Regions from separate parts of the Homo sapiens genome. Here region 2 is linked to region 1. Evidence: fine-mapped expression QTL. A gene starts in region 1. The other region holds a variant in brackets. All regions are shown on one strand. Distances are between the middles of the regions.

Region 1 (5,000 bases):
GATAAACATTTAAAACTTCATTGTGTACCTGGAAGTTGATACTTAATAAAAATTTTATTTCAATATGTACATTGTGACCCAAACCAATTATAGGCATTCCTTCTTGTCATTGTTGTTCAGAAGTGTGAGGTTTCCTTTTGTTACTTTTAATTAAAAAATTGAGACTTTATTTGCTTTGGATATGAGGCCTAGGCTTTATAATGTCGCCTTTAATGGAAACAACAAATACAGTAACTTCATTTAAAAGTAAACAATAGTGACAAATTCACCCTGTAAATCAAATTGCTGGTATTTATAAACACAGGTGGCAAGTTACTAGGTACGAAGGGTTCGTGGTCCAGGGGAAAATATGCCAGCAGAGTGCAGAGACAATGTCTAGGTACCGGCCCTAATTTAATATTTGGTGTATGTAAAGATCTTCGTGAGTGCTGGGCTGGCAACAGCAGGGGTTTGATGGGATGAAAAAGTAAGGTTAGCTGGATTTCAGGTTCAGGAAGAAACCAGGATGAGGACATTAGAAGATGAACTCAGCAAGTATGTAGGAATAGGCATAGGAGATGAACTCAGCAAGAATGAAGGGATATCCGAATCTTGGGAAAGGGTGGGAAAATAACCTAGAGAACTATGGATTGAAGGAAATTGAAGAGGAAAAATAGCAAGGACTTAGGCCCAGGACGGCTTTGAATGCGGCTCAGCACAAATTCGTAAACTTCTTAAAACATGATGAGATTTTTTAAAAGTTTCATCAGCTACCATTAGCGTTAGAATATTTTATATGTGGTCCAAGACAATTTTTCTCCTTCCAATGTAGCCCAGGGAAGCCAAAAGATTGGACACCCTTGGCTTAGATGGTGGAGTCAAGGGAACTAAAGATATGACCCCAGTGTGCCAATGCCAAAGGTGAGAAGAGAAAGCAAAGAAAGCAGGCCTTTAAAGAGGTAGAGGAATCCTCAAAGGTGGAAAGAAACAGGGATAGGATGCTGCCCAAGAGGCAGGGACAAAGAATCGGAGCCAAAGACTGCGGTAAAAATGTGGGAAGGTGATGTCCACGATGTTCGAACGAGTCCGTGGCCGAAGGAAGTAAGAGTCTGGGTTTCTGGAGGTTTTCATACAGAGAACTGGGATTTAGATTTCGGGCTGGAAAAATATATTTTGGACTCTCAGGGGCTTTCAGGGTAAGAGTTCGGTAGAGTTCAGTCAGCTTGGCGGAGACAGGTAGTCAGTTAATGTTGGAAGGAAAATTCGGACAGCTGGGAATTAATTTCAACGGGTTTAGGGTGATTTCGGCAAGGGCTGGCGGGGCTAGGGTCGAGTGTGAATTTCGTCTTGGGTGGTCCACGCGTCTGGTTTGGGCAGGAATTTCTGTGGGCAGCGAGGCGTATTCAGGCAGCGTTGCGGGTGAATCTGCGTGGGATGAGGGTGGATTTCCTTCAGGACTGCGGTGCATTTCAGGCCGGGGTGGAGGTGCCTCACAGCCGCGGCGCAGGGAATTCCCTCTAGGATGGGGGAGCGGGTCGGGCGGCGCCGGCCAGGGAGGGGAAGTCCAACGGGGGTTCGGAGAGGCTCGGGGGACTCGGACGGAGAGAAGCCGGGTCGCGGCTGCGGAGGCTCGGCCGGCCAAGGGATTTCCGCGACGTTCAGCGCTGCGAGCTGCGCGGCGCTGCGGCCCCTCCCGTCCCGGGGGAACCTGTTGCCGGCGAAACAGGCGGGCGGTGGCGACGATGGAGAAGCCTTCCTCGCCTCTGCCTGGCTGCACGGCAGCCCTTTCACCTTAGGCACGCTCCGCGGCGCGGCCCCTCCCTCCGCTCCTTCGTTTAAAACAAACAGAATACGCCGCCGCCAACCCTAGCCTGCCAACGGCGAGCACGGTCGCCTCCCGTGCCGCTTCCGGGAGCCGAGGCGCGGCCCCGCCGCCCGGGGAGGAGGAGGCGGAGGGGGAGGAGGCCAACATGGCGGCGCGCAGGGCTGGGCCGGGCCGCAGCCGCGCCTGAGCGCCTCACCGCACTAGCTCGGCTCGCAGGACCCAAGCCCGCACCCAGCCTGGCCCGGCTGCTGCGGAGCACCCGGGGCAGGAACGCAGGGGCCAACCTGGGCGCGGAGGCGGCGCGGAGGGTGCGCCGCGCGGCCCGCCAGGCCCGGGACCCGTAGCTTCGCCGTGCGCTGGCCGGGGCGGCCAGGAGGCCCAAGCCATGGAATCGGAGGAGGAGCAGCACATGACCACGCTGCTGTGCATGGGCTTCTCAGACCCCGCCACCATCCGCAAGGCCCTGCGCCTGGCCAAGAACGACATTAACGAGGCCGTGGCACTGCTCACCAACGAGCGGCCGGGCCTCGACTACGGCGGCTACGAGCCCATGGACAGCGGCGGTGGCCCCAGCCCCGGGCCCGGCGGGGGCCCGCGGGGCGACGGCGGAGGTGACGGCGGCGGCGGCGGCCCCTCCCGCGGCGGGAGCACCGGAGGCGGGGGCGGCTTCGACCCCCCGCCCGCCTACCACGAGGTGGTGGACGCGGAGGTGAGGAGGGGCAACCCCAGACCTCTGTGGGAAGCCACTGGGCTGGAGTTCCTGGGAGGGGACACACCCCGCTGGGCTTGGTGTGGGGAGAGAGGGCATTCGACTGGGGCTTTAGTGGGGGCGGGGCGGAGAGAGAGAGAGAAGCCCCAGGCTCCAGTTGGGAACCGAAGTCACTTGATTGGGGGTAAGTGGGGAGAGGGACCCATAGGAGAGGCGTGTGAAAGGGAATTAGGGATGCGCAGCGGAGCTGTGGGTTGGGGTGAGGAGGGGTCCCTTAGGCTTCCGGCTATGCACGCCGACGATGGGGAGGAGGCTCCAGGGCTATCATCCGAGATGGGAGGACAGACACTTGAGCATATAGTGGGAAGGATGCGTGCAGTAGGGGGTCGGAAATGGGGTACTAGTGCACTAGGCTAGGTCGGAGATTTTGTGGCACGAGGTTTCAGTGAAGGATTGGCGGAGGCACCAGGCTCAGAGTCAGAAAAAGCGGTGTGGGCCGGCCAGAGTAGTGGTCTTTGACAGGATCACAGGAAAACTGTTGGGGTTAGGAGTGAGGTTGGGGTTTTAGCCAAGGGTCGGAAAGGGGGGGCATTGAGTAGGATTTAAAATGAAGAGGGAAGGGGCCGCGGCCAGGAATGAGGACTTGAATAAAATCAGGTATGAGAGCAGTGGGGATTGCACTGAGAGGGCAGAGGTGGGAGGCCTGGGCAGGGGTGGGAGCTGAGGAGGGTCTAGGCAGGGATGGGGACTGGAATTGGAAGATAGAGCTGGCACCAGGTCTGGGTAAAGAGGGAGTACTGGTCATCGATAAGGTCAGAAATGAGAGAAAATTAGACCGGGGAAAGAGATGGTAGTCATACTGAGGGTGCTATGCAGAGGGGCGCGGAACAGGGTGGGAGCGCAGTGGGGGTGGAGGAGGAGTCTTGAGGCTAATGGCTTTGATCAGAGACCTCAAGTCTAGGTGGAGAAGACTATGCCTGTTTAGTTTGGGGTGTGAGCAAGGAACGTGGGGGAAGAAAACGGACTCTTCTATAATAAAGAAAAAAGATCGACCAGAAGCAGCAGTGCTTTTGAATAATTACTTTGCAGAAACATAGTAGCTCATGGCAGGAATTTTGGTCAGATTCGTTGGGTAGTTCATTTCAGGGGCCAGTAGAGCAGCTTGGCCTGACCACAGAAAAGCACAGATCTCAAATTATTGGGATTGCGTTATTAGGTAGAGATACGAATTTGGTTCGTTCTTAATGAAGAATTAAGCTTAGTGAAGCTAAGCCTTTTGAAACACTTTTTCCTGAGCAGTGTTATATCCTTTTAATTGTATGCTTTTGCAACAGTTCCTCGGGCTGAAGTAGCTTGAACAAGAAGGTGGCACTTAAAAAGAACAGGTTTCTGCACAAGATTTCTTTGGCTTCCACACTTAGACACAGTTGCTAGATTGCCCTCTGTAACCCACTAACTTAGCTGTATCGTTGACTAGTATATGGAAATAAAGATTGTTACTATTCCTAGTTTGGGAATTTTTTTAAATTCCCATATAATTGAGTAACCATACTTAAGTCATTTTAAGAAATCAGCTTCTCATTGGCAGTTCCTATCACTCCTCCCTCGTTCCTTCTAGTTTTTGACCCAGTTTTGAAATCAAGAAGAAAGCCGTTGCTTTTTCAGAAGGTGTTTGTATAACTCTGCAAAGCTCAGTGTATCCTCATTATGTGAGAAATGTGATTCTTTTTTTCTTTTGTCATACCTTTTAATTTCCTGTGATTGGAAAATCAATTTAAATTACAATGCTTGGTGCATTCATGTTAACATTAGCGCTAACCTTAGCTTACTGCCAGTACATGTAAGTACAAAGAATTGGGAGTGGCTTCTTACGTGAATGGCAGGCTAAGGAGTTTGGTTTGCGGTAAATTAAAATCCATAAAATCTCCATCTTTTCGAAGCAGTGCATCAAGTCCTCATTTCTCCTAGACCTGTGGATTTGGCCTGGGGGAGGGAAGCTGCACCGTTTACTTTTAAGAGTTCAAGAGGAGCTGGTGACTGAGGCTGCTTTACCCACGAAGCGTATTGGCAGAGGTTGGCAGGCTGAGACTTTCCTGACACACAGGAGCCTTTTGGAAACATTTAACGCAGAATGTGCCTCTGTGGTTTAATAATCTTAATGCATGCCACCTATGGAACTTCTTGGTCATCCTTGGTGTACACAGTGGGAAACTGAGGCTCTTGATCTTGGGAAATAGGGAAAGGTAATAAATATTATCCAGCATCTACAGGGTGTCAGGCCCTGTCTTAGGTGCGTTATACAGTTTATTTAACCCTTGGTGAGAGAGTTAACGTAGGCTTTTTAGGGATATGATTATGTAGTGGGTGGCAGGGGCTGAATTTGAACCCAGGTCTCTTTGACTTCAAAGCCAGTGTGCTTTTCACTCTGCTCAACTCATGGTTTTAGGATTAAATTTGTTTGGTAACAGTATGGATAGTAAGGAGAAA
Region 2 (5,516 bases), 150 kb after region 1:
GGAAGTAGATACACTAGGGAAGAACCTTAATTCTAAATTTGGTTCATGTGTGGCAAAGTTCTTAGCTTCTAAGAGTATAAAATAAATTTTTCAAAAACAGAGTTGGAGTCTTGCCGCCATTCTTCATATATCAGAACACAGCCGTAGTGGGCGGGGGAACACGAGCCTGTGCCTGGTGCTAAATGCTGTTGATTCCTCTTAGTACTTTACACTAATAAAGGGGACTGTGGGTCCTCTGAGCCTGTTGCTGTTCTTTTCTCTGGAGGGGCTGACCATTTCAGGATTCATCTGCAAAGCTTAGAGGAGGATGCTGAACTTAGGTTGATGGTCTCCATTCATCTCCACCAAAGCTTTTGGCTCTCCCAAGTGGTCCCCAGCATAGATCGTGTCGCTGGTCACACTGGGCTTCTTGCTAGATCCCACAGGTCTCAGTCTCATTCCTAGTGGCCAGCGTTGCTCACATGGGTCCCCTTCCCTATTTGCTAGTCCAGATTTTCGCCTTCCTGCAAGCCACACCCCTTCCTCCCCGATCCCTGGTGACCACCTGCTAACCCTCTGCAAGAACCAAGTTGTTCCAACATCACAGAGCTGTCAGGGTGTGGATCTCTAACCAGCTGATACTTGATTCTGTGGAGGGGAAGGAGAGAGAGTCTAGGGTTGCACCACAGGCCTAGGTTCCAACGGGCAGAGATAACACAGTTGGGTGTTCAAGCCATTGCCATCTGTCAACTCTTGAATGCTTTCCATATATGACACTGAATTGTCAGAAAATGTAATCTGGGAGGAATTTTGCCTGAGATTCCTTATGACATGGGCTGTCTAGAGAGAGAGAGAACTTGCTTAAGACAGCTATATTCACCAGCCTTAGAGTGGAGGGCCTGGAGGTCCCACATTGAATGGGATCATTATGCACTCTGTAACCCAGGCTGCAGTGCAGTGATGATGTAATTACAGCTCACTGCACCCTCAGCCTCCCAGCTCAAGCAAGCCTCCCATATCAGCCTCCTGAGTAGCCGGGACCACAGGCATGTGCTACCACACCTCGCTAATCTTTTAAATTTTTTTATAGAGACGGGGTCTCACTGTTGCCCAGGGTCTTGAATTCCTAAACACAAGCAATCCTCCTGCCTCAGCCTCCCAAAGTACTGAGATTACAGGTGTGAGCCATTGCACCCAATCTGAGACTGTTCTGAATTTTAAATCATGAAAAAAGCCATGGACTTAGCACTGGCTCATTACAGAAGCATCTGGCACTGTAACTTATTCCGTAAATACTCGGGCCAGGCTGTGTGCCAGGTACTGGGGAGAAAAGAATGAAAAGGGCATTGGGAGGTCAGGACAACAGAGCATCTAGAGTGCTGTAGGGCACCTGTCACCAAGGAGGAGGCACTTTGACTGTCAGGGTGGTCAGGGGAGCTGCAGGAAGACATTCATTTCATTCCTAGGATAGGCACAAGGAGTAAGTTCACATCACCAGTACTTGCCCAATACTTGTACTCAAGATAAAAGTACTCATCAAATACTTGGCTTACTCAACTATTCAACAAACTTACCCAGTTCCTAGTATAAGCAAGGCATCACCCTAGGCAGTCAAGTCTATGCAAGAGTTAGGACAACGTTTGTTTGTTTTTATTTTAAAAAGTCACCATATTAATAAAAATGCTACAAAACCCAGAATAAATATCTTCAAGTTACAAAAGCAAAACAGGTCTAGAAAAGTTGGCTGTAAAAAGGCAACAGAGAGGACAGACCCAAAAGATAAATGTCTGCTTGCTTGGGTGGGGCTGGTGCTCAAGGAGGGACAGTTGTTGGCCCTCTCCCCCGACCATGCCTTAGAAGCATCTCCGCCAGGCCAGTGAATCAGGCCTGGGTGATAACGGAAAAAGTTCCATGCCTGCAGGCATCGTTCTGCCATCACTCACCGAGCTTCCTGGTCTGTGTTCCCCTTCCCAGCCTCACTGTTACCCGTAAAAATGAGGAGCCCAGCCGGGTGAAGTAAGAAGAGGCTTGGCTTCAGAGCCAGCCCAATCTGCGTTTCTGGCTCAGTTCCTGCTGTGTGAGCTTGGCAGGCACGCCCCCTCTGGTTCCAGGTTTCTTCCTCTGTGAAGTAGGGGTGCGAATGTGTACCCTGCCGGGTAGTGGAGCGGGTTGGCTGAGACAGTGCATGCACCACTGCACACTGCCGAGTCAGTCCTAGGTGATGGCTCCCCGCAGGCCACCTTTGGGTGTTGCTAGCACAGCCTGGCATAGAGCAGAGTAAAGGTGGCTCAGGAAACCAAGGCACAGCCTGTGACCACCAGGGGC[G/A]CACCTGTCTCCAGCCTCTGGCTAGATGCCATCCAGAAAGCTAAGCCTCCATTAATCAGGGAGCCCCCAGGGGCTTCTCCACAGTTAGCTGGAGATGAGGGCCATCAGCACCTTTCACACTCACCCCCCAACGATGTTTGTCCCTGCAGCCCCTACCGCCCCCTCCCCTATCCATGGGAAGAATCCTGCCTCCTTGGTGGAGACCTGAGGATTGAATGCCTGGCACGGAACAAGAGCTCAATAAAAGTCATTCTGCCCACGGACATCGGCACATTGGGAGCAGCTGGCAGCACCCGAGCACAGCTCGACCTGTTTGAATGGTGAAATGCCCCACAGTGAGGGAGGGAGCTTCCTGGCACCTCCACCTGGGGAGGAGGCACCCAGAGTGAGTGAGTTCCAGGCAAGGAGGCTGCCCCACTCAAGGGCCAGGCCAGCAGCCCCGGAAAGGCGGAAGCATCCCCATCCCCTCGTGCCAGGCCATGGAGGGCTGAGAGAGGGACAAGTCGGAACCATTTTAAAGCTCAGCCCCAGCCCTTGACCCTCCCCAGACACCCATCCTGGGATGGGGCTGTCACTGGAGCTCCTGGGAGGCCTGCGCCAGGTGCCGGCTCCGGCAGCAGATGGCAACGGCTGTCACGGCCCCTTCGCTGGTGCTGCCTGTAGTGCTGACGTCCCGGCTCCTGACTACACACGTGTTGTCTACGGCGTAGGCCCCCAGGACGTGGGAGGTCCCAGGGAGGGCACTGCAGCCAGTCAGGGTCCAGCCCTCCTCGCAGGCCACGGTCACCTGCCAGAGCCCGAGGAAAAGAAAGCACATGTCTAGCGTGGCCCGGGACCCCCACCCACACTTCATTTCTCCCTCCGACATCCTTCTGTGAGGCCAAAGTGCAGACGGCCCTCGCTGGCTCAGAGCCCATTTGGGACACAACCGTGTATCTCCCACCCCGCACCTCCCACCCAGGCGGTTCTGCACCATGGCTGACCAAACACGTGAGCTCCTGCTTCATGCCTGGTTTGAGGGCCGTGGAGATAGACAGATGCCTACCATGCCAGTGCCAAACTCATCCCTCTGAAACTGATGGCCCCATAGCCTGCCCCATCCCACTTAATGGCAACTCCATCTGTCCAGGGGCCCGAGCCTTGGTGCCATCCTCCCCCTCTCCCACCCACATCCACCCACCAGGCCTGCAGGCTCCCTTCAGACTCCAGCCTGAGCCCCGCCCCAACGCCTGGACCCTCCACCGCCTCCCTCCAGTCTCCCTGCTTCTGCCCAAGGTCCTTGTCATCTCTTCTCAGCTCAGCAGCTAGGCCACAGTGAGAGGTTCAGATCCAGGCCAGACCACACTCCTCTGAGGCCAGACCCCTGCATGGCCCCAGCTCACTGCTGACTGTGACCCTCAGGTCTCACCTGACTTGGCCCTGTCCCCTCTGAGGCACCCCCCATCTCATAACTATTCCCACCTCTCTGGTTTCCTGGTACTCCCTGCACATCCCCACCTGGGGGCCTTTGCTTTGCCTGGAACATGTTCTCTGCCTCATGGCCTGTTTCGTCCACCTTGTCAGCGAGACCTCTCCTGACCTCTCTCCCACCCCATTCCCTTCCTTGCTATAGTTTTCTCCATCGCATCTTTTCAGTACTCTATATTAATGGTTTGTTTTCTGTCTTCCTCCACTAAAATAGATGCTCCAGGAGGGAGAACAGCATGTCTCTTGGGCCTGTATCCCTCCCCAGTGCCAGGAAGAGCACCTGGAACCTAGCAGCCCTCAGTGTACCCAGGGCAAGTGGATCCAAGACCAAGACTGTCTTTTGCTCTCGAGGAATGCACCATCCAGACCAGAATCAACACAGACTTGCATTTTAAAACTGACTCTGAGTTCATTTAAGAGTGGACTCCTTAGGGCTGCCTTTTGAGGAGCTCCTACTGGCTTTTAAGGAGAGTTATACACTCAGGTTTCTAGAAGGCCCGGCTGTCACATTCCAGGGCTTGGCACATGCCTTGCTAATCTCGGCAGGGCCTTTTCTTGCCTTGCTGGTCATGCTAACAACCTTCAGCATGCAGCTCAGGCACCCCCTCTGGGTCACGGCTGAGTGAGCTCTGTGTCCTCAGAGCCCAGTGCTGCTCCTGACCCTGAGACCCTCCCAGCAGGTTTGTTAAATAGATCAGAGAGGCCAGGTGCAGCGGCTCATGCCTATAATCCCAACACTTGGGGAGGCTGAGACCAGAGGATTGCTTGAGCCCAGGAATTTGAGACCAGCCTGGGCAACACAGCAAGACCCCATCTCAGAAAAAAATAGATCAATCAATAAATGCATGCATATTGCATTTCTTTATGCCATATTTATGCACATTCTACTCCAAGTGGAGTGGGGTACCCAGGTAGCAAACCTTACTGATCTGGACAAAAGCAAAAACAGACCCAGCCACACAGAGACACATATACATGCTGTCCACACAATGGCGGAAGCTGCCCACAGCATCTACCTGGCAAACCGCCACCCTGATGCATGGCGGTATGGTGGTGGCACAAACTGACACAGAAAAGCTGTGCAGGAGAGACACGCAGCACCCCACCCACCCGGCCTCACGGGCCTCTTCACCTGCTCCTGAGGGGCCGGGATTCCATGCTCCTTGACTTTGCATTCCAGACCTGGGGCATGGCAGCAGGAAGCGTGGATGCTGGCCTCCCTGTGGCCCACGCACTGGTTGGGCTGACCTCGTGGCCTCAGCACAGGCGGCTTGTGGGTGCCAAGGTCCTCCACCTCCCAGTGGGAGCTGCAGCCTGGGGCAGAGGAAAGCCAGCTCAGATGTGAAATGCTGGGATGCTCCGTCTCCAGTGCCCATCCCCATCAGACCCTCTCTCTTTAAGGTCTGAGGCAAGAGCTAGGAAACCTAGAAACAACTCAAAGAAAAAAAGAGATGCTGGCCTGAGCACCAGGACTCCTGTGTTCTCAACTCTGCAGCTGACCAGCTGTGTGACCTTGGGAGAGCCATTCAACCTCTCTGAGCCTTAGTTTCTCAGGGAAAACACCATCTTTCCACCCAGAGATGGAGACAGTGAGGCAGGGGCTCTATGGCCTGAGATGCTCAAACTCCCCCCAGCCCCTCCCTATGCAGCCAGCAGGCAGAAGTTCAAGGGTAAGCCGGGGTCTGTCTGAACCACCTCAGAATGCCCTCCATGGGCTTAGGAGTCAGACACACCCATTGGCTAAG

Direction of the effects. Positions count from the first base shown, and alleles are read on the strand shown. Sizes are in standard deviations (SD) of each study's normalised expression.
For the expression in esophagus muscle of the gene that starts at base 1,939 in region 1, allele G in region 2 goes with a lower level than allele A (small effect, 0.34 SD a copy in GTEx).

Evidence for each region. PIP is the estimated chance that this variant, and not a neighbour inherited with it, causes the effect.
Region 2: its variant is the best candidate, but not a certain one, in a credible set for the expression of USP24 in esophagus muscle (GTEx, PIP 0.51).

Annotation. Positions count from the first base shown.
Region 1 is chr1:55,212,303-55,217,302 of GRCh38, reverse strand. USP24 (ubiquitin specific peptidase 24) reads left to right here and starts at 1,939. Exons shown (of 68, transcript NM_015306.3): 1 at 1,939-2,513. The coding sequence starts at 2,190. It overlaps LOC100507634 (a long non-coding RNA gene), which reads right to left and starts at 1,895. Exons shown (of 1, transcript NR_038320.1): 1 at 1-1,895. RefSeq lists silencers at 1,762-2,271, 2,342-2,531 and an enhancer at 2,992-3,051.
Region 2 is chr1:55,060,944-55,066,459 of GRCh38, reverse strand. It overlaps PCSK9 (proprotein convertase subtilisin/kexin type 9), which reads right to left. Exons shown (of 12, transcript NM_174936.4): 11 at 4,904-5,085; 12 at 1,608-3,091. The coding sequence ends at 2,876. It overlaps USP24 (ubiquitin specific peptidase 24), which reads left to right. Exons shown (of 68, transcript NM_015306.3): 68 at 1-101. Among named protein-coding and RNA genes, the nearest start is that of PCSK9, 24 kb to the right of the region's middle. The variant G/A (reference allele first, on the strand shown) is at 2,305.